7 linked regions of the Homo sapiens genome follow. The protein of the gene in region 2 purifies or fractionates together with the protein of the main gene of each other region. This does not show direct contact. Each region holds a gene or a part of one and is shown on either strand. Other genes may lie near its edges. The genes, in order: ZCCHC17, PFKFB2, MOB2, ZC3H11A, PGAP2, FAM83B and POLDIP3.

Region 1 (3,500 bases), about 180 Mb from region 2:
CATCAGGCACAATGGCAGACAAGTCATGGTCTCTGTTTTTGTGGGTCTTACACACACACTCTTTCAAAAGCAAAGGTGTGGTTCCGTACACCATAGTATGAGGAAAAAAGAAAAGGTGCTATAATCTCAGATATTAGAGGATAAAACAAAGCGGCATTTAAAACAATAACTACAAGTAGCTACATGTATGTCTACCATAGACTAGACATGAAGCTGGCTCCTTACAAATAAGATTTTACTTAAATCACTCAAGCATTCCTTAGATATATGTTACTGTCTCCTTTTATAGTAAAGAAGCTAAGATTCAGATAGACTAATTAATCTGCTCAAAGTCATATATTAGTTTGGAGCAGAACCAGTACTCTTTCTGATTCAAGTCTAGCTCTAAATCCTCTAATCATTCCATTATGCCATGCTTCCTTCCTGGATGCAGCTATAGACATAATTTACAACAAAAGTTACTGTTTCAGCCACTTGATTATTACTAAAAATAGTTCTACACAGAGACAGCCCAAAACCAGGGAGCCCTTTCCCTTCCCTACCCATTTTCTGAGAAACAGGGTTAGCTCTTTTATCTTACATGTTTTATATTTTATCACTGTAAGGGTGGCTTTGGGAAATTTCACTATTTTTTAATGAGTCCATATAGCATTGGATTTTTTGGAGCAGAAGCTATTTATTACAATGCAATCATCAGAATTTTTTCTTTTTCCTTTTCCCAACACTAACTTGAACCACAGCCAGATTTAAACACTTCTGCACTCTGAGTTATAAAAGATTCCTACTATTACTGACAGTATTTTGTCAATAATCAGCCTTACAAACATGTTAATATTTAGAGACTAAACCACAGAAATATGAAAAGTTCTGTAAGTCACATGCAAGAGTGAGAAGCATTTTGTGGTGAAAAGGGCATTAGCTTTAAGGTCAGAGAGACTGAGTTTTGAGTCCCTGATAATTTTCTATGTAACCACAGGTAAGTTACTTATCACCAGGCACCAAGCTATAAAGTAGGAATATAAGGTAAAATGGAGATAACATCCACTTTGCAGGTTGTTATGTACCCAAGAATGTACATAAAATGCCTGGCACTGCAGTATGTATTCAATAACATTTCCCTTACTTCCAGATAAAATTCCTTCAAATTCAAAGTGATTTTGCTCAGAACTATAAACATAAGGCTTTCCAAACTTTTCACCAATAAGATCCCACTCAAATAACATTCTATCATTTTTCTTGTCTTTTAAATTCATCAATGACATAATTGTCATTGAGCGTACCTAATTAACATAAGACAAACAATGTGATATTTTATCATCAAAAGCAACAAAATAACAGCATGGTTAACCTGAGGACACACATAGAATTTTGGATGGCTTTCTAAAACACTAAAAACAGTTAATAAACCCTCCAAGGGCCGGGCGCGGTGGCTCGCGCCTGTAATCCCAGCACTTTGGGAGGCCGAGACGGGCAGATCACCTGAGGTCGGGAGTTCAAGACCAGCCCGACCAACATAGAGAAACCCCATCTCTACTAAAAATACAAAATTAGCCGGGCATGGTGGCACATGCCTGTAATCCCAGCTACTGTGGAGGCTGAGGCAGGAGAATCACTTGAACCTGGGAGGCGGAGGTTGCGGTGAGCCGAGATTGTGCCATTGCACTCCGGCCTGGGCAACAAGAGTGAAACTTGTCTCAAAAAAAAAAAAAAAAAAAACCCTCCAAGATCCCCCTTTAAGAGACTTTAGGGATCCAAGAACCTCCGATGAGAAATTTAAGAAAGAAGCCTGGGCATGGTGGCTAACAATTGTAATCCCAGCACTTAGGAGACCAAGGTGGGAGGATCGCTTGAGCCTAGGTGTCCAAGAACAACCTGGGCAACATAGGGAGACCCTGTCTCTACAAAATAAAAATTAGGTGTGGTGGCGCATGCCTGTAGTCCCAGCTACTCGGTAGGCTGAGGTGGGAGGATAGCTTGGGCTTGGGAGGTCAAGACTGCAGTAAGCCGTGATTATGGCACTGCACTCCAACCTGGGCGACCCCATCTCAAAAAAAAAAAAAAAAAAAAAAAAGAAATCCAAGAAAGACTTGAGACAGACAGAACATTCCTTGTATTGCCAGACATTGTCCTACATAGATAATTTCCCATTCCTAAATGAAAGGTCAGAAGAGCCAACGAAAGTAAGATGTTGTTTTCAGAGCACAGTGTATCCCAAGATGTGGGAGTCTAAACCCCGCTGGAGTTGTTCCTGGATTACTCTACCCTTCCACGTGGTCTCTATGTGGAAGAGACCCACGTAACCCCACCTGCAGAAATCACTGGGAGAGAGGTAAAGAATAGTTCTTCATGAATGCTTATTAGCTAACTCGTTAAAGGGCAGAAACAGAAAGAGATTAAGGGAAAGGAAACAAAACCATTGATGGAGCACTCCAATGCCAGGAGCTTGGTACGTTAACGTTTCATCTTAGAACTCTATGCAGCAAGGTGTTAACTATTTTTATTTTATTACTTTATTTTATTTTTTGAGACCGAGTCTCACTCTGTCATCCAGGCTGGAGTGCAGTGGCATGATCTCAGCTCACTGCAACCTCTGCCTCCTGGGTTCAAGAGACTCTAGTGCATGACTCAGTCTCCCGAGTAGCTGGGACTAGAGGCACGCACTACCACATCCAGCAAATTTCTAGTTTTGTATTTTTAGTAGAGACGGGGTTTCGCCATGTTGGCCAGGCTGGTCTCAAACTCCTGACCTCTTAGGTGATCCGCCCACCTCGGCTTCCCAAAGTGTTGGGATTACAGGCGTGAGCCACCACGCCTGGTCTAACTTCATTTTACATTTCTAAAAACCAAAGATTGCAAAGGTTACGTAACTTATCAATATCACAAAGTCCATAAATGGTAGAGTTACCAGTTCAGTCTGATTTACTAAACCATTTTATGATTTGGGAGGCAGAAGAATTTTCACCTTTCCAAACCTTTTACTTACTCAATGATAACATTGTTGGGATCAAGGTCTTTCCCAGTCCCTTGATTGACAACCTTCATGGAGAGGGATACTTTTATTCTATCATTTTTCATCTGAAAGAGACCAAAAAAAGTCACCAAAAACTTTAAATACATCATTTAGATGGCCAGTCTAAAATTAAGAGTCAACGTTTTCATCATAACATTGAGCTTCTTTAATGGACCAGGTACTGTGCTAGGAACATTGCAGATACAAATAAGCATAACAGGTAGACCCTGTGGCAGAAGAATTTTAGGAAACAGTCTTAATCTCATTCTTGTCCCTCTGAGGGAAAGACAAAAATGGTAGCTCAAAAAATCCATGGCTTGTGGAAGTAACCAGGCAGAAAATAAAAGTTTTTCTTCCAGGTAAGTTCAGCATAGTGATTTGTTGAGATATCCCTAAGTCCAGAATAGGTTTTTGAATACTTCAAGAGACTAGATCTCCTTCTGGACTTGGTCTAGAGCTTCTTTAAGCATGAAGACATTTGTCACATTGG
Region 2 (3,500 bases):
GGGCTGGGTAGCCAGGCTGCTGCAAGGGTGGGGACCAGAAAGAAGAAGCAGCAGATAAAGCTTACCGCAATCTGACCATTCTCCTCAGTGAGATACGCCTTAACATCTTCCAGCGCCACCAGAGCACACTGTCTGCCATAAGAGCAAATGAAACCAGCAAGGAGAGCTAAGCTCAAACAGTCAGAGACACAAACATTCGGGTGGCTACAGAAGTCACATCCCTGCCCACTTAGTTTCCCACTGTTCAAAACCTTTCTCTAACTAGATCTTTCAACTTTCTCACTGAGGGTTTTCACACCATCCTATAACCCCTTCCTGCCCCTGCCCCAATGCACAGATCTTAGCCCTCTTTAGACTTCTCCTACAAGCACACAGGTATCAATCACCCTGAGCCCTGTTCTTCTGACCACCCAAGCCCAAGGTCACTTGCCCATCAGATAACTTCCATTTAACTTCCCCTTAAGATATTTACTGAGATGAAACCAAGCCCTGTCACACCAAGTCTCATGACGGCCAAGAAAGAGCTGACCTGGAGATCAGGCCTTAAACAAGACTCACTTGCGGATCTTCATGGCCTCCTCATTGTCATGCCGAAAGAAGTCGTAGGACTTATAGGACTTGACTGCTTCACGCCGATACACCCCAAGATTAAACACTGTAGAAGACACCCAAATCCTTCAGCAGCAAAATAATATGATGGCCCCACCAAATGGGACTTGTTTCTTGGCCTAATGTCGGAGTGACCAAGGGGATGAAAAAAGCGGCAGCATGGTAGGTTGGGAACAATATCAGATTAAGAGTCAAAAGAGTTGGGTTCAAGCCCTGACTTTCTAGACCTTGGACAAGTCTTAAGCTGTCTGAGGTTTCAATTTCCTCAGCCACTCTGTCTATTTCACAGAGACACTGCTAGGGTTATATAAGATGATGTCCATGTAAGGCTTCTGAAAAGGTACAGCCCTATGCTCATCTAAATCTTAACAGTCCTATCAAAGGCATTCCCTCAAAACTAGGCCAATCCACCCACGCCAGGAGGAGACAAGTCTGGGAATAGAGAATAACTCCAGTAAACCAGAAAGCAACTGCTATTTCTGCCAAAAGCACCCTATAGCATTGATGCCAGGAAGAATAAGTCTCCCAGAGACCTGTGAGGCCCAGGAACTAATAATTGTCTTTCCTAGGGAATGAGCCACACTTACCTTTGGTGGGGACTCCAATCCAGTTGAGGTAGCGTGTTAGTTTCTTGGACACGTAGGTTTTACCCCGGGCTGGCAAACCAATCATAACGATCAGAGTCGGGGAGTTGGTCATGTAGGAGGCCCATGCTAGAAGGAAATGAAACAAAATAAAACGAAATGACTAGAGTCCTAGTAAGGTTTTTTGGTGTTTGTTTTTTTGAGACGGAGTCTCACTCTGTCACCAGGCTGGAGTACAGTGGCGTGATCTCAGCTCATTGCAACCTCCGCCTCCCAGGTTCAAGTGATTCTCCCGCCTCAGCCTTCCGAATACCTGGGACTACAGGCGCCCTCCACCATGCCCAGCTAATTTTTGTATTTTCAGTAGAGATGGGGTTTCACCATGTTGGCCAGGATGGTCTCAATTTCTTGACCTCATGATCCACCCACCTCAGCCTCCCAAAGTGCTGGGATTACAGGCGTGAGGCGCCCAGCCCCGCTGGGGTCTAGTAAGGTTTATACACTGAGCTACGAACTTCATAGTCATAATCTCATTTTATCTTCATAAACCTGTGGAGCAAAGGTTCAGCAAGTCTGGGAAGACAAATAAGGAGATATCAGGCAGGCCTCCTGAAATAGAGTTAAAAGGTTATGCAGGCTTCCAGAAAATGCCCAAACCAAGATACGTCTTTCCCACATGTCTGAGGTCTTCACTGCAGTACCCAAGGTGGAAAGAGGAAAAAAGTAGCAAGGCTAAGAAAGAAAATAACCATGCTGCAGCCAGACATGACAGCTCATGCCTGTAATCCCATCAATTTGGGAGAATGAGGTGGGAGGATCACTTGAGGCCAGGAGTTCAAGATAAGCCTGGGCAACATAGAGAGACCCTTGTCTCTTAAAATATATATATATATATATATATATATATATATATATAAAGATATATATAAATATATATAAAGATATATATAAAGATATATATAAAGATATATAGATATATATAAAGATATATATAAAGATATATAAAGATATATATAAAGATATATATAAAATATATATATTTAAGATATTTATATATATCTTAAATATATAATATTTAAGATATAGATATATATAGATATATAGATATATAGATATATATATTTAACTTAGCCAGATGTGGGAGTGTGCACCTATAGTCCCAGCTACTCAGGAGGATTGCTTGAGCTCAGGAGTTCAAGGTTGCAGTGAGCCATGATCCCGTCACTGCACTCCAGCCTGGGCGACAGAGCAAGACTTCGTCTCAAAAAAAGAAAGAAAGAAAGAAAAGTAACAATGACATCATCCTTAACATAAGAATGCCTAGAAATATAAAAATGACAGAGCTGTGAAGGAAGGTCTAATGCTTGGAGATTCTACCAGTGCAGAACTGAGCTGGCTCCTATAATAGGTCCAACAGAGTTTCTGTCTCCAGGATCCCACTCATCCCTTCAGAACCATGGGCAAGAATTAGCTTGCCCACTGCAAAAAGCCCTGCCTCAAGCTGTTTTGGCCTTTTCACTCAGGTCATGAGCTCCTCTTTAAGCCAGAATTTCTAAACCATAGTGAGATTGAGTTGGCAAAGCTTACTTGATACACATTCTGAATAGACCTCAGGAAGCTTCAGGGTAGAGCCAGCCCACAAAGGGCATCAGGGCCAATCTGCCACCATGGCCCACGTAAAAGCAAGACAATTGAGAAGCATTAACAGTCCTCAGTCTACCCTTCCTTAGTAAATTAACTTACTTCAGGAATGCTCATTTGCAGAGATAAGTCTCACTGGACAGGCAGGGCAAACTACATGTTCAGGGGACAGGTGACTTGTCTAGGGACACATAATGAGTCAAGGGTACAGCTGGCACTAGAACACAGATCTTGTGCTTCCTTGCAGCTTTTCTCCATAAAAAGAGGTTCCTCATCACTTTGCTCACAGGGGCTGGCTCCTCCCGGCCCATCTTGCTGCAGAGGAGAGGTGGGAGAAGGACCTGAACTGCTGCCAGCCACTGTCCCGGGGCCAAAAACCACACTGAGGTCATCTGGGATAGCTCAGGCTCTGCCGGCTCCAATGAGGGAAGGCCCTGCACAGGATGGGGGAAAAAGGAAGAAACACCTTCACCTCCCACTTCCCACCACTGCTTCCCAGAAGGTGCCCTGCAAGTTGCGGCTGCCCCTCTGCCTGGTACTAAGGGACCTTGTAAGATTAAGAAACAGTTCTGTAAAATGGAGGTACTTGGATGGGAAATATGACTTTCATTTTTTGAGAAATAAATGTAGAAAGATCTCAATGGAGAAGTGGGAGGAGGGGCCCAG
Region 3 (3,500 bases), on a different chromosome or scaffold from region 2:
CAGAATTTGTGAGACATAACTCAAGCAGTGCCTAGAGGGGATTTATAGGATTAATGCTTTCTTAGAAAAAGAAGATGACTTTCAGTAATCTACGTTTCCAACTTAAACTAGAAAAAGAGCAAAATAAGTCAAAATCAAGGACAAGAAAGTAAATAAGAACAGAAAGCACTGAGATTGATTTTTAAAACAATAGGGGAAATGAGTGAAATCAAAATGTGATGACTTTGAAAGGTAATAAATTGGTAAGCCTTTAGTAGGTACAAAGATAAGAGAGAAGATGCAATGATCAATAAAAAGGAGTGAGTGTCACTAAACCCTGTGGATGTAAAGAGGAGTATCACTGTAGACCCAGTGGATGTTAAAAGGATAATAAGGAAGTATTGGAAAAAAACCCTCTGTGCACATGAATTCTATGGCTTGGGTTAAATGGACCAACTCTTTGGAAAGCGCAGTATATCAGAACTCGCCTAAGATAGGCAGTGCCATAAGGTAAGAAGAAAGAATAAAAGGCATCCAAATTGGAAAAGAAATAAAACAATAAGCCCCCCTTATCTACAGTTTCCGTTACCCACAGTCAACTATGGTCTGAAAATAGTTAATGGAAAATTCCCGAAATAAACAGTTAATAAGTTTTCAACTGCATGCTGTTCTGAGCAGTGTGATGCGGTCTCCACCGTCCTGCTCCAGGTGTGCCTCCTCCTCCCTCGGCCCAGCTGTGCCTCGGCCCCCGTGTGGATCCACTGCCGCAGTGCCAGGGTGCTCGTGCTCAGGTTGCTCTTATGTGACATGAGGCGGCCCAAAGCGCAAGAGCGTGATGCTGGCAATTCAGATATGCCAAAGAGAAGACAGAAAGCACTTCCTTGACCTAAAGATGAAAAGGTGAAAGTTCCTGACTAGAAAGAAACAGATTGTGTGTGAGGTTGCTAAGATCTAAGGTAAGAACAAATCTCTTCTTTATGAAATTGTGAAAAAGGGAAAAAAAGTCCCTTTAATTTCGCTGTTACATCTGAAATTGCAAAAGTGACAGCCACAGTGCGTGTTGAGTACTTGGATCTGTGGGTGGAGGAGGTGAGAGGATGGGAGCAGCAGCGTGTTGCCATTGAGCCTGCAGGAGGCCAGCAAGGGACCCCCTGATATGCGACCCCAGCCACTCACTGCAACTGATTGTCCTCAGTTTATGAATTACACTGGGTGTGGTGGCTCACACCTGTAATCCTGGCTACTCAGGAGGCTGAGGCGGTGGATCACTTCAGGAGTTCGAGACTAACTTAGCAACACAGCGAGACCCTATCTCAGTCAATCAATCAAGTCTGCCTGTCTTTATTTTAGTAATGTATGTATAGGAGAAAGCGCAGCATATATAGGGTTTGGTGCTCTCTGTGGCTTCAGGCATCCCCTGGGGGTCTTGCAGTGCATCCCCTGTGGATGGGGGGGATTGCTGTATCCCTGTGCACACGTGTGATTGGGAAAACCTCAAGGATTGTAGCAAATAATAATATAAATTTAGTGAGGTCAACACGCACAAATCAGTCATAGGTCTGTATATTAGCAATGTGAAATTTAAAACTGAAATTAATATTTAACATGCCATTTATAATAGCTCCAAAAATAATGCGATCCTTAGTTATAAACTTAACAAGACATTCCCAGGATCTGCACCCTGGAAACTACGAAATGCTGTTACAGAAAATCGAAGGTCTACATAAATGGAGAGACGCACTGCGTTTATCACCTGGAAGATGACTCCAAACACAAATTCTCCCCCAAACTGATCTGTTGATTTAGTGCAGTCTCAATCCAAATCCCAGCAGAGTTCAAGTATAGACCAGTTAGTTCTAAAATTTATATGGAGGGACAAATTAACTGAAATAGCTACAATGATTTTGAAAAAATAAGAGGAATCTCACACTTTTGAGACTTACTGTGAAACTCTAGTAATTAAGACAGTGTGCAGTGTTGAAGGAATGGATACAGAGCTCCATGGAACACAGTAGAGTCCAGAGATAGCCCCACACAAACGTGTGGACGGAGAGTCCGGAGACAGCCCCACACAAACGTGTGGATGGAGAGTCCGGAGATAGACCCACACAAACGTGTGGATGGAGAGTCCGGAGACAGCCCCACACAAACGTGTGGATGGAGAGTCCGGAGATAGACCCACACAAACGGGGCCATCAGAGTTTTGACAAAGAGCAAAATAAATTCAAGGGAGAAAGGGTAGTCTGTTCAAAAATGCTGCTGGGAAAAGCAGTCATTTGTGTCAAAAACCAAACGCTGACCTATCCCTCATGCCTCGTGCAAACATCTAAAACTCCAAAGCTTTTGGAAGAAACCATAGGAAATCCTTATGACCTGACACTAGGCAGCAAAATTCAGAACTTTTGCTTCAAGACACTTTTAAGAGAAAGAAGACAAACTCCAGGCTGGGAGAGAAAACATTTGCAAATCACACATCCCACAAAGGACTGATATCCAGAATACATAAAGAACATACACAACTCAGCAGTAAGAAAACAAAACAGTCCAGTTAACTGTCAGCAAAAGAAATGAGCAGACAGTTTGCCAAAGAGGGTGTAAGGATGGCAGCTGGGGCTATCCTGTGTTGTTAGCAATTAGAGAAAGGCAAGCCGAAACCATGGGCAGACCCATGTCCACCTGCCCACATGCCGGTCGGGACACTGGTGCTGGCCAGGATGTGGCCACCTGGGACTCTGTTCTGCTGGCAGGGACACAGGTGAATAGATGAGCACGCCATGTCCATCTCTGCAGGGGCAGTGTCTGGGCAGTGAGGAGCCGTGGACTTCCGACACGTCTGCCACGTGACTGCATCCCAGGGGCCTCCGTGCAAGAGGGGCCCAGATCGGGAGGATCCGCGCGGTGCGATTCCTTCCCGCGGCCCATCCCTGAGGAGCCATCCCCGGGGTGCTGGGGGCACAGCAGCACGGGTGTGAGGGGCCACGTAAGCCGCCGCGTGTCCTGATTGTGGTTATGAATGCGTGAGTCCACATGTGGATAAAAATCTTAGAACTATATACCAGAAACGGTTTACTGATAATTGAAGAAGTACAGGAAACAGTGGTGTTCCATCTTTCAGAACAGATGGGACAATCCACAGTGTCCCTGAGTTACTGCTTTCTCTGGGTTTGCATTGTGGAAAAGGGTTTCCGTCTCTAACCTCCACTGTTTTGAGACCTGTCGCACACCTGTGGCCAGGTGCATCAGATGTCAGCTTGCAGTGTCAGGGTACCTGGAGCCAGTGTCTGACTCCTGCAGAGTGCTGAGCCATCCTGGCTGGGTCCTCGCCCTGGAAACATGGGCCTCAGCCTGGCCCTTAGGGGCTGGGCCTCCCCTACACCATCTGGGAACCCCAGGACAGTGGGGATACGTGCGTCCTCTACATCATTCTCGAGGAGCAGATGCTGAAAGGACTGTTGTCTCTGCATTCTCAGAGGGTCTGACAGCCTGGTGGCGATGCCCACGGTGAGGCCTGCAGCCTGGGA
Region 4 (3,500 bases), 3.2 Mb from region 2:
GTCTCTAGGATTTTCTGCTTCAGGCACAGTGACTGATTTGTCCTCAGAGACAAGCGGGACAACAGCCTACAAAAGGAAGAGTCAGGTAATTCAGTGAGAGTCAGGCTTTTTAATTTGAGCATATTCATTTTCTTTTGCTGCCTTCTTAGAATTGTGGCTATGATTCTTTAAGCCTGTGAATCTAAGAATCGATAATCTAAAGGTTGAGTATATAAATAAGCAAAATATCTTGCCACCTAAAAATTAGCTTTTAAAAAATCCTGTCCTGCTACTTCACAAATATCAAACTGTAAGTATAAAATACAGTAGTAACCCAAATTACTAAAATGCTAGGAAATGCCAGGAAGTGATATACTCAAGATAGAATGCTAGTGGAGAGTTAGTCTTTCCTGCTTTCCTACCACACAGAATAAAGCACCACAAAGTGAATATACTTCTTACCACAGCTGCCTTTTTGGCTGGGGGTTCCTGTAGGACACTGCTGGAGCTGAGTGGCTTCACAGCGGCAATGACAGCAGCGTGCATCTCCACTGCCTTACGTTTTGGGGCCAATTTGGGGGATGACACAACTTTAACCACAGATGGCTTCACGTTCACTTTGGGTTTAGCTACAAAGGGCAGAAAATATCTGATAAGCAGTGAGAATAGACTCTTTTAAATGGGGAATAATTCAGAATAAAATATCAAAACTCCTTCAGTACTAGAAATACCACAAATAATTCATTTAAAAAGAGACTGAAAACGATTCAAAGGCAATTTGTGGTCACATGGTGGTCACTACAGGTGGTCACCATGTAGATACAATACCACTTAAATTTGTTACCATTCCTCTATTCCTTGTTTTTATTCAATACCAGAGGAAAGATGCACCATAGAAAGTTTTACACAAAGCTTTTTAAATAGCAATTTTAAATTCTGAGAAAAGAATTCATCTCGTTTTGCCTCTGTATAAAAATATCAGAAATATTACTATCTACCTGTGGATAGAAGGCAAATGAAATTCAACCCAATTGTTGCCAGGAAGTTACTGGCAACAATTGGGTTGAATTTGGTAATTTTGATAACCTAAAGCAATACACAGTATAGAAATACTTGCCTTTACCCCTTTTTTCCAAGGTCTGTGCTGCACATTTCACATTCAATAATGAGTCTCCAATCCCTGAGGTTTCTACCTCCACCTTCTGGGATGACTTTGTGGGAAGCCGCTTGGTCAGGTGCCGTGTGATTCCTGGCACAGCAGTGAGCACTGGTTTCTCTGCCACTTGGGTATTGCAAGAGGCTACATCTCCCCGAAGAGGTGTCAAGACTGATTTTTCCCTCTCCTGCTGTTTCTGCATGTGCTTCTCTCTCATGGTCTCACATCTCTTGACTTGAATTTTAGTGATGTCAACTCCTGTGGTCTCACCTGAAGCCTGTGGATAAATTTGAATGACAGAATTAAAATCTGGTACCTCTAATAACCTGTATGATGTAAGTACCAGGCTAACATCTAAGTTAAGCAGAATCTCACATGATCCAGAATCTGAGAGAAAAGCTCTTTATTTGATGTTAAATAGACAATACCCTGTTAAAGATGAAAGATTAGAATTACAGATGTATGGAATAATAAAAAACCCAGATTCCACAGGCTAGACAACCATGACTCTAAGTCAAATACTAATGATTCCTAAATAATCAAATACCTGCACAAAGATTTATGTACAAATATATTACTTTAAATTGTGTAAAACAAAATCTGAATGTCCAGAAAAAGACTGTATTTGTATAATGGAGAATCATGTGGTCAGTAAAAACAAACTTCTTGAAGAATTATTAACATGGTAAAGTTAAAGCAGGCTGTAAAATGATACACTGTAGAGTTCTCCATTATGTTCTAAACATGGGTTTAACATTAAACAAATTCACATGCATGCATATATAAACAAAAAGGTCGAAGAAGGCCAAGTGTGGTGGCTCACACATGTAATCCCAACACGTTGGGAGGCCAAGGCAGGCAGATCACTTGAAGCCAGAAGTTCGAGACCACTCTGGACAACATGGAGAAACTCTGTCTCTACTAAAAATACAAAAATTAGTCAGGCTTGGTGGTGCATGCCTTTGATCCCAGCTACATGGGAGGCTGAGGCACAAGAATCGCTTGAACCCAGGAGGCAAAGGTTGCAGTGAACCGAGATCATGCCACTGCACTCCAGCCTGGGCAACAGAGCAAGACTGAAAAAGCTCGAAGAAATCCATGGAAAAGATAATGATGGTTACATCTGAGCTGTATATTTTTAGGGTTTGTTCAGTTTTAAAAAAAATAAAATTTCCAACTTTTGTATGATGCATAGCATTAGAAAAAACTCAGTTAAAAAAAAGTAATGGCCAATTAAACAAAAAACTTTATTTTTTGTATTTTTAGTAGAGACGGGGTTTCACCGTGTTAGCCAGGACGGTCTCAATCTCCTGACCTCGTGATCCGCCCGCCTCAGCCTCCCAAAGTGCTGGGATTACAGGCGTGAGCCACCGCGCCCGGCAAACAAAAAACTTTAAAAGGGCAGCGAATACTGATATACATAGAACTACAGGAAATTCTCATAAGAAATTATAAGTAAAAAGAAAGACTGTTTACCTAATATATGAATGAAGTACTTAGAAATTTATTGTAAGGTAAAACTACCAATTATCTAGCCTTTGTTTGCCATGAACAAAACCATACAATAATCTTAAATTTACCTCTTTAGCTTCTGTTCTAATACTGCTCTGAGAATCAACTTCATTTCCTTCCTGAAGGTTCTTCTCTTCTTTCATCCCTGTATTCACATTAAAGACATCATTAGTTATTTTATTTAAGCTGCAACTTCATGATAGATATGTTAAACAAAACTTTATTTAATGAAAGTAGTAAGACAGGACAAATAAAATTACAGATAAAGCCCATCTGTGCTCCTAAAGTCTCAAAATACACATTAAAATAGCAAAGGTTGGCCGGGCATGGTGGCTCACACCTGTAACCCCAGCACTTTGGGAGACTGAAGCAAGCAGATCACACTTGAGGTGAGGAGTTTGAGACCAGCCTGGCCAACATGCTGAAACCCCATCTCTATTAAAAATACAAAAATTAGCGGGGTGTGGTGGCACATGTCTGTAGCCCCAGCTACTTGGGAGGCTGAGGCAGGAGAATCACTTGAACCTAGGAGGTGGAGGCTACAGTGAGCCAAGGTCATGCCACTGCACTGCAGCCTGGGTGACAGAGTGAGACTCTGTCTCAAAAATAAAATAAAACAAAATAGCATAGGTCTACATAGCACTACTGAAAAACTTCATTTAATTCAGTGTTTTCAACGTTATCTGAGTAAAGAAAGGTTGTCAAACAACTCCTAGGAAGATCCCACGGAACACTCCTCTGGAATATTATGTGGGGACGTGGTACTAGAGACCAAGTTCTCTTGTTACCTGTTCTTTTGGTGATTCGCAGCAGCCGCCTTGCCCCTGGAGTGGCCTCGTGTTGAGACGGGGAG
Region 5 (3,500 bases), on a different chromosome or scaffold from region 2:
AAAAACAAAAGCAAAAACAAAACGGCCGGGCGCAGTGGCTCACGTCTGTAATTCCAGCACTTTGGGAGGCCGAGGTGGGCGGATCACGAGGTCAGGAGATTGAGACCATCCTGGCTAACACGGTGAAACCCCGTCTCTACTAAAAATACAAAAAATTAGCCGGGCGTGGTGACGGGCGCCTGTAGTCCCAGCTACTCGGGAGGCTGAGGCAGGAGAATGGCGTGAACCCGGGAGGCGGAGCTTGCAGTGAGCCAAGATCGCGCCACTGCACTCCAGCCTAGGCGACAGTGTGAGACTCCGTCTCAAAAAGAGAAAAAAAAGCAGATTCTGGCCAAGCGAGGTGGCTCATGCCTGTAGTGCCAGCACTTTGGGAGGCCAAGGCAGATGGATAGCTTAAACCCAGGAGTTTGAGACCAGCATGGGACACATGACGAAACCCTGTCTCTACAAAAATTAGCCTGCTACTCAGGAGGCTGAAGTGAGAGGATCACCTGAGCCCAGGAGGTCAAGGCTGCAGTGAGTCATGATCATGCTATTGCACTCCAGCCTAGGCGACAGAGTGAGACCCTGTCTCAAAAAGGGGGAAAACAAAATTAAAAAATTAAAAAATGCAGATCCTCAGGTTCCAAGCCTTCTGCATTTTCAAACAATTCCCCCAGTGAGTTGTATGGGTAATTAAAGTTTGTGAAGCACTGCTCTAGGCCCTGGAGTCTAAGAGAGCCTCTTCCCATCTTTGGCTTTCCTGTCCCCATCTAAACCCTTGTTCAGTCATCCCCCATCCTTTCACCTCTCAAACAAGCAAGACACCAGTCCCTGCAGCTGTGTATTATCTTCTCCTTTTTCCTTAAGGACTGAAGCTTCAATAGGAGTTCCAGGCATTAAGATGGATGGTGGAGATGCACAAGAACATGGTCATTTCCTTAGACTACCCCAGGTTAGGAGCACCCACTTTCTTTTTTCTTTTCTTTTTTTTTTTTTTTTTTTTTTTTTTTTTTGAGACAGAGTCTCACTCTGTTGCCCAAGCTGGAGTGCAGTGGCACAATCTCGGCTCACTGCAAGCTCCGCTTCCCAGGTTCACACAGTTCTTCTGATCAGCCTCCTGAGTAGCTGGGACTACGGGCGCTGGCCACCACGCCTGGCTAATTTTTTTTTTTTAAGTAGGGACAGAGTTTTGCCATGTTGGCCAGGCTGGTCTTTAACTCCTGACCTCGGGTGATCCACCCACCTCGGCCTCCCAAAGTGCTGGGATTACAGATGTGAGCCATCGTGCCCAGCCCACCCACTTTGTTAATCATGATCAGAGCAGGGGTGCCATTCTACCACCTTGGCACACCTGCCTAGAGGAGTGAGTGGCGCTGGGAGCAGACTGAGGAACATCTTAGCTGAGCAGTGAATCCAGCACTGTTCTAAGGAAGCTCAGATGGTCTGTGACTCATCCCTGTCCTCTGGACTGAATCTGAGGCCTTGGAACTCACCCAGGGTCTTAGTGGAGGCACAGCTCTGAGCTATGGGTGTAGAGCATCTGAACCCATCTACACATTGACCAAACACAGGCAGGTTCCAGTCTGCGGGGGAGATGGAGAAGGTGCCACCATGCTGCTGCACAAATCCCAGGATAGCTGGGGAATGAGAATCCAGCACTTTGGGCCTAGGACCTGGAAGGAGAGGTCTTTTGGGAGAGGTATGGGGACATCTGAAGGAGGACTTCTTGGAAGGGGAGGGGCTGGAGCAGAGGCAAGAGTGATTTTGTCAGATGGAGAGAAGGTTCTCCACATGGGCGGGGCTGGCAGAGGCAGATGCCCAGACAGGTCACAACTCTCTAGGTGCCCAATTACCTGCCCTCGGTGAGCTCAGCCATCGGCGGGGAGGTGCCCCAGCGCTACGTGTGGCGTTTCTGCATCGGCCTGCACTCGGCGCCTCGCTTCTTGGTGGCCTTCGCCTACTGGAACCACTACCTCAGCTGCACCTCCCCGTGTTCCTGCTATCGCCCGCTCTGCCGCCTCAACTTCGGCCTCAATGTCGTGGAGAACCTCGCGTTGCTAGTGCTCACTTATGTCTCCTCCTCCGAGGACTTCAGTGGGTGCCTGGATGAGGGAGGAGTGGGGAAGTGTTCCCTGAGGGGACGGGCCTGCCCCTACCACATTCGGACCTTCCTACTTCGTGGTGTGGGCACTCCCTGCAATGTGGCTCCCAATCCTCTTTCCCTCCAGCCATCCACGAAAATGCTTTCATTGTGTTCATTGCCTCATCCCTCGGGCACATGCTCCTCACCTGCATTCTCTGGCGGTTGACCAAGAAGCACACAGTAAGTCAGGAGGTACGGTCTATCCCTAGCGGGGGCTCCAAGGCAGCCCAGAAGAAAATCAAGGACATCTGTCCTCAGGATTCGGGTAATGGTGAGGTGGGAACTGAGTTCTAATGGGAACCCTGGCAGAGGGGTGCTGGGGTTGGGGCTGGGGCTTGGGAACAAACTGAGGGTGGTTGGTCAGAATCTAGGACTATAGCACTGTGTTTGGGTAGTGTGGGAGACTGGAGAATAGAAGAGATGGAGGCTGCAAATGGGGATAGAATGAGGAGTCGCATCTAGGCGGCAGTGAGTTAGGAACAGTGTCAGAGGACTGGTCTGTCATAATTCCAGCGCCCCACCCATGTACATGGGTTTCTTTTCCCCCACAGTATTTGGAGGTGGGGTTGGTGGGTGACTCCATGTAACTTTCATACTCCATCCCCCTGAAGTGGAAGCGGCAGGAATACCACTGCTCCTCGGCCCATCACTCCCCCAGAGGCAGGGACGTGAACACATAGTCGTCATTCTTGCTGCCCCTGCCTGTGCTCCCTTCCATGACCGCTAGTGGGAGCCAAGGGAGATAAGGCCCAGCCCTTAGGAGTTAGGGCTGAGAGGGGAGCCCACGCTCTCATACCCAGCAAGCTGCAGAGTGATCAGACAGCCCATTCCCTAGGATCGCAAGTCCTACAGCTGGAAACAGCGGCTCTTCATCATCAACTTCATCTCCTTCTTCTCGGCGCTGGCTGTCTACTTTCGGCACAACATGTATTGTGAGGCTGGAGGTGAGGCCAGGATAGGATCCACAGGCGGTCATGAGTGGCTGCGGGGCAGCAATGATGTTTTTGATAATGGGCAATGGTCTTGGGGACTGGCTGCCATTGTGTTCTCTGTGGCAGACCAATGGTGGTGTGATTTATCAAGAGGCCTCTGAGCGGGTAGCTGGAAGTTCACCATGTCCTGTTCCTTGTGTCCTCACAACAGTGTACACCATCTTTGCCATCCTGGAGTACACTGTTGTCTTAACCAACATGGCGTTCCACATGACGGCCTGGTGGGACTTCGGGAACAAGGAGCTGCTCATAACCTCTCAGCCTGAGGAAAAGCGATTCTGAACCCTTCAGTCCTGCTTGGGAGGACGCAGCCCACTGCCCAGAAACAAGAAACACGATACCATTCTGGCCTTCCCCACCCCACATCCTCTCTTGGCCTTACT
Region 6 (2,414 bases), on a different chromosome or scaffold from region 2:
CAAGACCTGTAATCCCAGCACTCTGGGAGGCCGAGGCGGGAGGATCACGAGGTCAGGAGTTTGAGACTAGACTGGCCAACATGGTGAAATCCCATCTCTTCTGAAAATACAAAAATTAGCCGGGTGTGGTGGTGCGCACCTGTAATCCCAGCTACTCAGGAGGCTGAGGCAGGAGAATCGTTTGAACTTGGGAGGCAGAGGTTGCAGTGAGCCAAGATTGCGCCACTGCACTCTAGCCTGGGTGACAGAGCGAGACTCCATCTCAAAAGAAAAAAAAAAAGAGCAAGAATTTTCGCAAGCAAGACCCCTTAGCATTGTCATGCCAATCTAACAAAAATTTAGGCAGAAATTTACATTTCTAAAAGCTTTTATACAATAGAAAAAGGAGGGGGAATCATTCAGATTTTCTAAATTCCTACTGGTTTGTCCTAAATGTGAAGTAAGGAATGACTATAAAAAATCAGCAGCCTATGGGTAAGAGGGGGACAGCTCCCTGGGTCCAGTGTAGAAAGAAGCACATCCCAGACCGTTTTCAAAGGCTGAGGAAAATAAATTCCTACGAATGTCATTATACTACATGAGGCTGATACTTTGCAAACACTTCAGGCAGAAAAAAAAATAAAAAATAAAAAATGTAAAAGGTACTGCTGTTGCCCAAACAGCTGTACAATGATCCACAGAAAAAATAATATTAATAAAATATAACAAGTTATCCCGTAGAACTTCAAGTTAATCTTAAAAAAGGGCTTTGTCCCATTTGCTTATATTTTTGAAGATATGAAAACACTATAAACACATGTTATAAAGGGTTACTGAGGGTAGTATGACCTTTTTAAAAGGAAATGGTTAAAATCCATACACCATACACCATACACCATACATCGTCCACAAAAATTTCTAAGTGAGACTTAAAATCTTCAGTCTAAAGAAAATGATTTAAATACATCTATTATTTTTACCATTACCACTTACAAATAATGTGTTTACAGAGAAATTCTATCTACAGCAGACCCTAACTTTATCACACAGAAAAATAACTTTATACTAGGACACTGGTGAACATATACATCATACCCATAATTCTGTCCTTAGGAAAATCTATTGGCATGTTACAAAGACTGTCCACAATTTTCTTTGGACAAATATTGATAGCCTCATTCATTTTGCATTTTAATAGCTATTTATTTTTGTGTATAAAGTTTCCAAACTTTTGCATAAATCCTCGAAACTTGTTCTCATTGGGTTGATATGAGCGATAAACACCAGTGTTGTAATTAAGCAATGGACTAGACCTGCCATAACTGTTGCCCATAGTCGCAGATTTTATTTCTGGGCGATTTATACTGGTATTTGGCATGTTGCTTGTTGGCTGAATAGAGCTCTCAATCTTACAAAACGGCTCAAAACGACTGTAAACACGCCGATCAGTTGAATGAGATCGTAGAAGCTCACTGGACGTTGGCCTTGGAGAAGAAGTAGGTCTTCTTTCAGGGGTAACAACTGCATTAATCTCCCTTGAATCTCGGTATTGGATCTGTTCAGTGTTAAATCTTGGGGCAGAGGCATCTCCTGCCCTTTCCAAGAACTTGCTTTCAACTGGACCTGGAGAAGGTGTTCTTTTATTTTCATCTGGTGGAGCATTTATCTCTTGAGATGGGCTAACTGTTACATCTTCCTTACTCTTGTGGATGCTGCCTTGAGAATTCGATGAGGAAGAATGCTTTCTTCTAGGAGATGAATCAACTTTTGTGTCTGATTTCTTTGGTTTTTGATTTTCTTCACCCTCAGAAACTAATGTGTCAGAGCTACTACACAATCTATAAAAGGCAGGTGCTTTATTTTTGGATAGATTTTCTTTCTTATCTGGGGTAAGGCTAAGTAATGACCTTAACTTCTGAGACCCCTTTTTCAAAAAACTTGGGGAACCCTTAACTTCCTTCTTTGAAGCAAGTTCTTTGTTAGATTCCTCTTTATTCACATCAAGTAAAGCAGCAATGGAAACTGATTTGGTAGTAGTGCCACTTGGAGAGTTTCTCTTGGTAACTTCCTCCTCATCCTCCTCCAAGTTATGAGTCACATTGTGCATGCTTTTAGAACTTTTCAGCAAATCTTCTTTGGGCTTTTCTGGTTGTCTAACTCGATTCCTGGTAAGTGTACTATATACATAATGCTTACTATTTCCAGGATCTAAGTTGGCTTTTGAGTTGTCAAATAACGGGAAACTTCGCCTTTTAAGTAGATTCTCAGTCTGTTGATTCTTTAGATTTTCTGTCTGCTTATTTACACCCAAGGTTTTATATATATAGTTATTTGATTCAGTATGGCCATTTGTAGTTTGGTTTAAGGCTACTGAGTGGTTTTCAGGAACCTGCAAGGTGTGCATTTTTGGTGCCTCTGACTGCAATGGGAGCTTG
Region 7 (3,936 bases), on a different chromosome or scaffold from region 2:
TCTGCCTGCACTCTTTGCCCCAATCCAATCCCCATACAATGGCAAAGAAATATTTTCAAGCTAAAAATTGAATCATGTTACTCCTTTACTTTAAGAAGCCTTCAATGACAATAACGAAAGCTAACGTCTATCAAGCACTTAAGTACCCGTTGTCAGGAACTTTTCAATGCACTTCAGGTATATTAATTCACTCAGTCCTAACAATAACCTAATAAAGTAGATATTACTCAGGTTTTATACATAAGGAAAGAAAGGCAAGGAATGGTTAAGTAACTTGCAGACGGTCCTAGGGAAAGTGGGAGAAGCAGGGATTGGAAGCTTGGTGGTCTGCGTCTAGAGTCCCAGTGCTCACCTATGCTCCAGGGGCGTTGTGTGCTTCTATGCCTTTAAGGAAAGGTCCAAGATAATTACCAGCCTTTGCTGAACACTTGCCACATGGCACAAACTTTAAAACATACCTTCTGGCCCGGCGCAGTGTCTCATGCTTGTAATCCCAGGACTTTGGGAGGCCGAGCGGGTTCGGCCTGAGGTGAGGAGTTCGAGACCAGCCTGGCCAACATGGTAAAACCCCATCTCTACTAAAAATACAAAAATTAGACAGTCGTGGTGTCGGGCACCTGTAATCCCAGCTACTTGGGAGGCTGAGACAGGAGAATCACTTAAACCCAAGAGGCAGAGGTTGCAGTGTGCCAAGGCTGTGCCACTGCACTCCAGCCTGAGCAATACAGTGAGACTCCCTCTCAAAAAAACAAACAAAAAAAACCCTTCTCACATTTAATCCCGCTCAACCAGGAATCACCATTCCAAGTGAGGAAACTGCCTAGTTCAGAACTCCCCTGGCCAGGGAAACAGAACCCAACAGTGGCAAGTGCCAGGTGTATCCAGCTGCAAGGCCCCTGTTCCTGTGGATCCACACATAACCACCCCCCATTCCTGCAGCCCCACCTACTGCCCAACACAAAACTCTGCACACACTAAAACCAAAAACATAGAGATCAAATAGACTACAGTGCAGTCCACCTGCAGTCAGAAACTGGCGGAGTGACCTCAGAGAGAGAAGAACCTGGGGTGGATCATTCTGTCGTTTCCAAAGGAACCTACAAAACGTGGATGGACTTAGAAGTGGCCAGAGGAGCCAGCACCAGCTTCACATCAGTCACTAGATGGAGATCTGAGAGAGCTTTCACAGTCAGTAGTTGAGGAAACAAATACTAATGTGTGCCCGTTACGAACCACAAGCCAGGTAAGTGCTGGCTGCGAATTATGAGGTGGTGGTGGCAGTTGTAGTTGATACAAGTGTCCAGGATGGGGAAGGAGGTGAGGGATACATTTCAGACATCAAGAGAAAAACCTAACCACAGGCATACGGGTGGTATTAATAAACATCTGCGGAATGGCCGGGCCGGTGGCTCACGCCTGTAATCCCAGCACTTTAGGAGGCCGAGGCGGGAGGATCACCTGAGGTCAGGAGTTCGAAACCAGCCTGACCAACACAGTGAAACTTCCATCTCTACTAAAAATACAAAAATTAGCCGGGCGTGGTGGTGCACACCTGTAGTCCCTGCTACTTGGGAGGCTGAGGCAGGAGAATCGCTGGAACCGGGGAGGCGGAGGTTGCAGTGAGCCGAGATGGCACCACTGCACTCCAGCCTGGGCGACAGAGCAACACCCCGTCTCAAAAAAAACATAAAAATAAAAATAAACATCTGCTGAGAGAACAAATGTCTGAGAAAACAATATCTAACATATTTACATCCTGGCTATTTACAAAGACATTTAAACTTAATGTGTGTTGGGAAACTATTGGGCAAAGTTCTCACTTCTTCATACAGATGAACTCAGCTCACGAAGGCTTGAAATGACTAACAACATTTAAGGGTCTAGGGGAAGTTTGGGAGACATGACTGCAAATCACCTCCATGGCTCCTCAGCCAGCTCAAGCACTTTCTTCTCCCTAAGGAAATAACCAATCTCCTGCCCAACACACCAGTTTTTCAAGCCCATGTAGGAGGCCAACTCAGCCAGCAATTAAATCGCGCTCAGCCCGCCGCTCAGTTCTCCGTGGCCTCGGGCAAGTCACTCTACCACTTCCAGCCTCAAGTTCCCCATCAGTAAAAGGTGGGTAACATGAATAGCTAGCAGACAACAGGACTGTAAAAGATTAAATGAGGCATCGTGTATATGAAAGGGCTCAGAAAACTTAAAACGCCGCACAAAGAGAGGCGAGTGTTAACAGGGGCCGCGTGCAGGGGGATTTGGGCTTGCGCCTCAGCTTCGGCGGTCGGAGCAAGTCACTTCCCCGCTACTAAACTTCGGTTGTCTCAACTCTAAGATGGGTGGAGACCAGGCAGCGCCGAGATCACGGAGCGGGGCCCAAATGCCAGTCCACACAGGCAAGGAGGCTGCGCCGCCGAGACCCCAGGACCCCGGAACGCGGGGGCCCCAGGGGGCAGCCCCTCAGGTCCACGAGGCGGCACCCTGTCCCCGCCGCGGCCCCGTCGGCCTCCCAGGGCCGCCAGAGGGACTGCGCCTCGGCCAGTGGGCGGGCGGTCGGGGCCACGGCGGGGACGGCGGCAGCCGGCCAATGAGGAGCGCGGCTGTGGTCGGGGGCGGGCGCACCCGGTCCTCCGCGTCGCTCCCGGATCGCTACCTCCCCCGCCTCGAGCTCCACTAGGCCGAGGACCCTAAACCCCGAAGAAAGGAAAGGCCTCTCACCGTCCTTTCGCCGCCGCCCCGCGCTTCCTGATGAGTTCGTCCAGGGAGATGTCCGCCATCTTGCTCCGCCGAGCAAGCCGAAAGCAGTCGAGACCCCGCGAGCCCGCCCCTTCGGCCGCTAGGGAGCGACGAACTACTTCCGGCGTCCGCGGACCAACTCTCGCGACAGCCAGCTCAAAGCAGGCAAGAACCGGAAGGGGCGGGGACGTTCCCCGTGAGCCTTCGCGGTGCTGGCTGCTCATCTGCATACGGAAGTTCGGCACATTATGAATTATTTATTTTCCTCGAGGGAAAAAATTAAATGAAAAGCAACAAAATACATTATTAACAAGTGAGACAAACTTCAATGGAACTGGATCATGACCTCAACAGTCAACTACGATAGTCATCATACGCCTAATGAGAATAGAATTCATTACCTAGGAAATAAACTAAAAACGTCCTTATGCCTTAAACTTATGAGTAAGGAAAATAACGATTCGGGGTGACGCCCGAATCCTCACTGCTAATGTGAGACGAATTTTTGAGCGGGTAAAGGTCGCCCTCAAGGTGACCCGCCTACTTTGCGGGATGCCTGGGAGTTGCGATCTGCCCGACCTTATTCACGCCTAAAAAGTAGACTGACTGTGGGGTGGTCGTGTTTTTTGTTTCTTGTTGGTAGGTGGTGAATGCGTTTTTTTCGTTGTTTTCTCCGTTACTCAGGCTGCCAGTTGCTTGGCAGTCTTGTCGCTGGCTGTGGACGCTCTGCACTTCATCACCGTCCCCAGCTGCGCTTTGAGCCGGTCTAAGGTTGCCCACAGTATTGACGTTGGGACCCACGAAACTGGCAATTTCCATGTGTGCGGCCTTACCCAGTTCTCCCAAACTTCTGCGTATAACCGCTTCTCTGTGCTTCAGAAAGATAAGTCCGGCCCCGGCCTCACACAGCAGCTCAGTTCGTGACAGCGTTTAATATGTAAAATGGAGCAAATAATTTATAGGGCGTTGGGAGAGTTAAAGAGACTAATTCATTTACGTGTTAAATACAGGGAATGGCTTTTGCATTGATATAACCCCAGCCTCCAGCATGCGCCAGACCTGACGTAGGTGTTCGGCACATATTTTGTCCAATCACTCTAAAAATACACTCCATGCCCTTAGAACAGGTGGGGTTATGTCCTCTTGGCCATCAGGCATCAGGAGCTCCGTGCAGAAACTGGGTAAGAGGCCAGGAGCGGTGGC

What was found.
Region 1: the proteins of PFKFB2 (region 2) and ZCCHC17 purify together in Homo sapiens (affinity purification with mass spectrometry; one large-scale study listed by BioGRID and IntAct). This does not show direct contact.
Region 3: the proteins of PFKFB2 (region 2) and MOB2 purify together in Homo sapiens (affinity purification with mass spectrometry, with the first as the bait; one large-scale study listed by BioGRID). This does not show direct contact.
Region 4: the proteins of PFKFB2 (region 2) and ZC3H11A purify together in Homo sapiens (affinity purification with mass spectrometry; one large-scale study listed by BioGRID and IntAct). This does not show direct contact.
Region 5: the proteins of PFKFB2 (region 2) and PGAP2 purify together in Homo sapiens (affinity purification with mass spectrometry; one large-scale study listed by BioGRID and IntAct). This does not show direct contact.
Region 6: the proteins of PFKFB2 (region 2) and FAM83B purify together in Homo sapiens (affinity purification with mass spectrometry; one large-scale study listed by BioGRID and IntAct). This does not show direct contact.
Region 7: the proteins of PFKFB2 (region 2) and POLDIP3 purify together in Homo sapiens (affinity purification with mass spectrometry; one large-scale study listed by BioGRID and IntAct). This does not show direct contact.

Annotation. Positions count from the first base shown.
Region 1 is NC_000001.11:31,338,532-31,342,031, reverse strand, and holds part of ZCCHC17 (zinc finger CCHC domain-containing protein 17), read right to left. Parts: intron 3,076-3,500; coding exon 2,984-3,075; intron 1-2,983.
Region 2 is NC_000001.11:207,059,775-207,063,274, reverse strand, and holds part of PFKFB2 (6-phosphofructo-2-kinase/fructose-2,6-bisphosphatase 2), read right to left. Parts: intron 2,364-3,500; exon of another isoform or gene 2,345-2,363; intron 1,323-2,344; coding exon 1,197-1,322; intron 656-1,196; coding exon 559-655; intron 133-558; coding exon 66-132; intron 1-65. UniProt on the Homo sapiens protein: Synthesis and degradation of fructose 2,6-bisphosphate.
Region 3 is NC_000011.10:1,473,280-1,476,779, reverse strand, and holds part of MOB2 (MOB kinase activator 2), read left to right. Parts: intron 1-3,500. UniProt on the Homo sapiens protein: Stimulates the autophosphorylation and kinase activity of STK38 and STK38L.
Region 4 is NC_000001.11:203,847,623-203,851,122, reverse strand, and holds part of ZC3H11A (zinc finger CCCH domain-containing protein 11A), read right to left. Parts: coding exon 3,436-3,500; intron 2,793-3,435; coding exon 2,716-2,792; intron 1,413-2,715; coding exon 1,097-1,412; intron 609-1,096; coding exon 442-608; intron 67-441; coding exon 1-66. UniProt on the Homo sapiens protein: Through its association with TREX complex components, may participate in the export and post-transcriptional coordination of selected mRNA transcripts, including those required to maintain the metabolic processes in embryonic cells.
Region 5 is NC_000011.10:3,822,060-3,825,559, forward strand, and holds part of PGAP2 (acyltransferase PGAP2), read left to right. Parts: intron 1-849; coding exon of another isoform or gene 850-934; intron 935-1,553; coding exon of another isoform or gene 1,554-1,681; intron 1,682-1,823; coding exon 1,824-2,076; intron 2,077-2,210; coding exon 2,211-2,317; coding exon of another isoform or gene 2,318-2,396; intron 2,397-2,676; exon of another isoform or gene 2,677-2,960; coding exon 2,961-3,069; intron 3,070-3,268; coding exon 3,269-3,399; 3' UTR 3,400-3,500.
Region 6 is NC_000006.12:54,940,771-54,943,184, reverse strand, and holds part of FAM83B (protein FAM83B), read right to left. Parts: coding exon 1,178-2,414; 3' UTR 1-1,177. UniProt on the Homo sapiens protein: Probable proto-oncogene that functions in the epidermal growth factor receptor/EGFR signaling pathway. Activates both the EGFR itself and downstream RAS/MAPK and PI3K/AKT/TOR signaling cascades.
Region 7 is NC_000022.11:42,612,084-42,616,019, forward strand, and holds the start of POLDIP3 (polymerase delta-interacting protein 3), read right to left. Parts: upstream 2,801-3,936; 5' UTR 2,775-2,800; coding exon 2,716-2,774; intron 2,697-2,715; exon of another isoform or gene 1-2,696. UniProt on the Homo sapiens protein: Is involved in regulation of translation. Is preferentially associated with CBC-bound spliced mRNA-protein complexes during the pioneer round of mRNA translation. Contributes to enhanced translational efficiency of spliced over nonspliced mRNAs.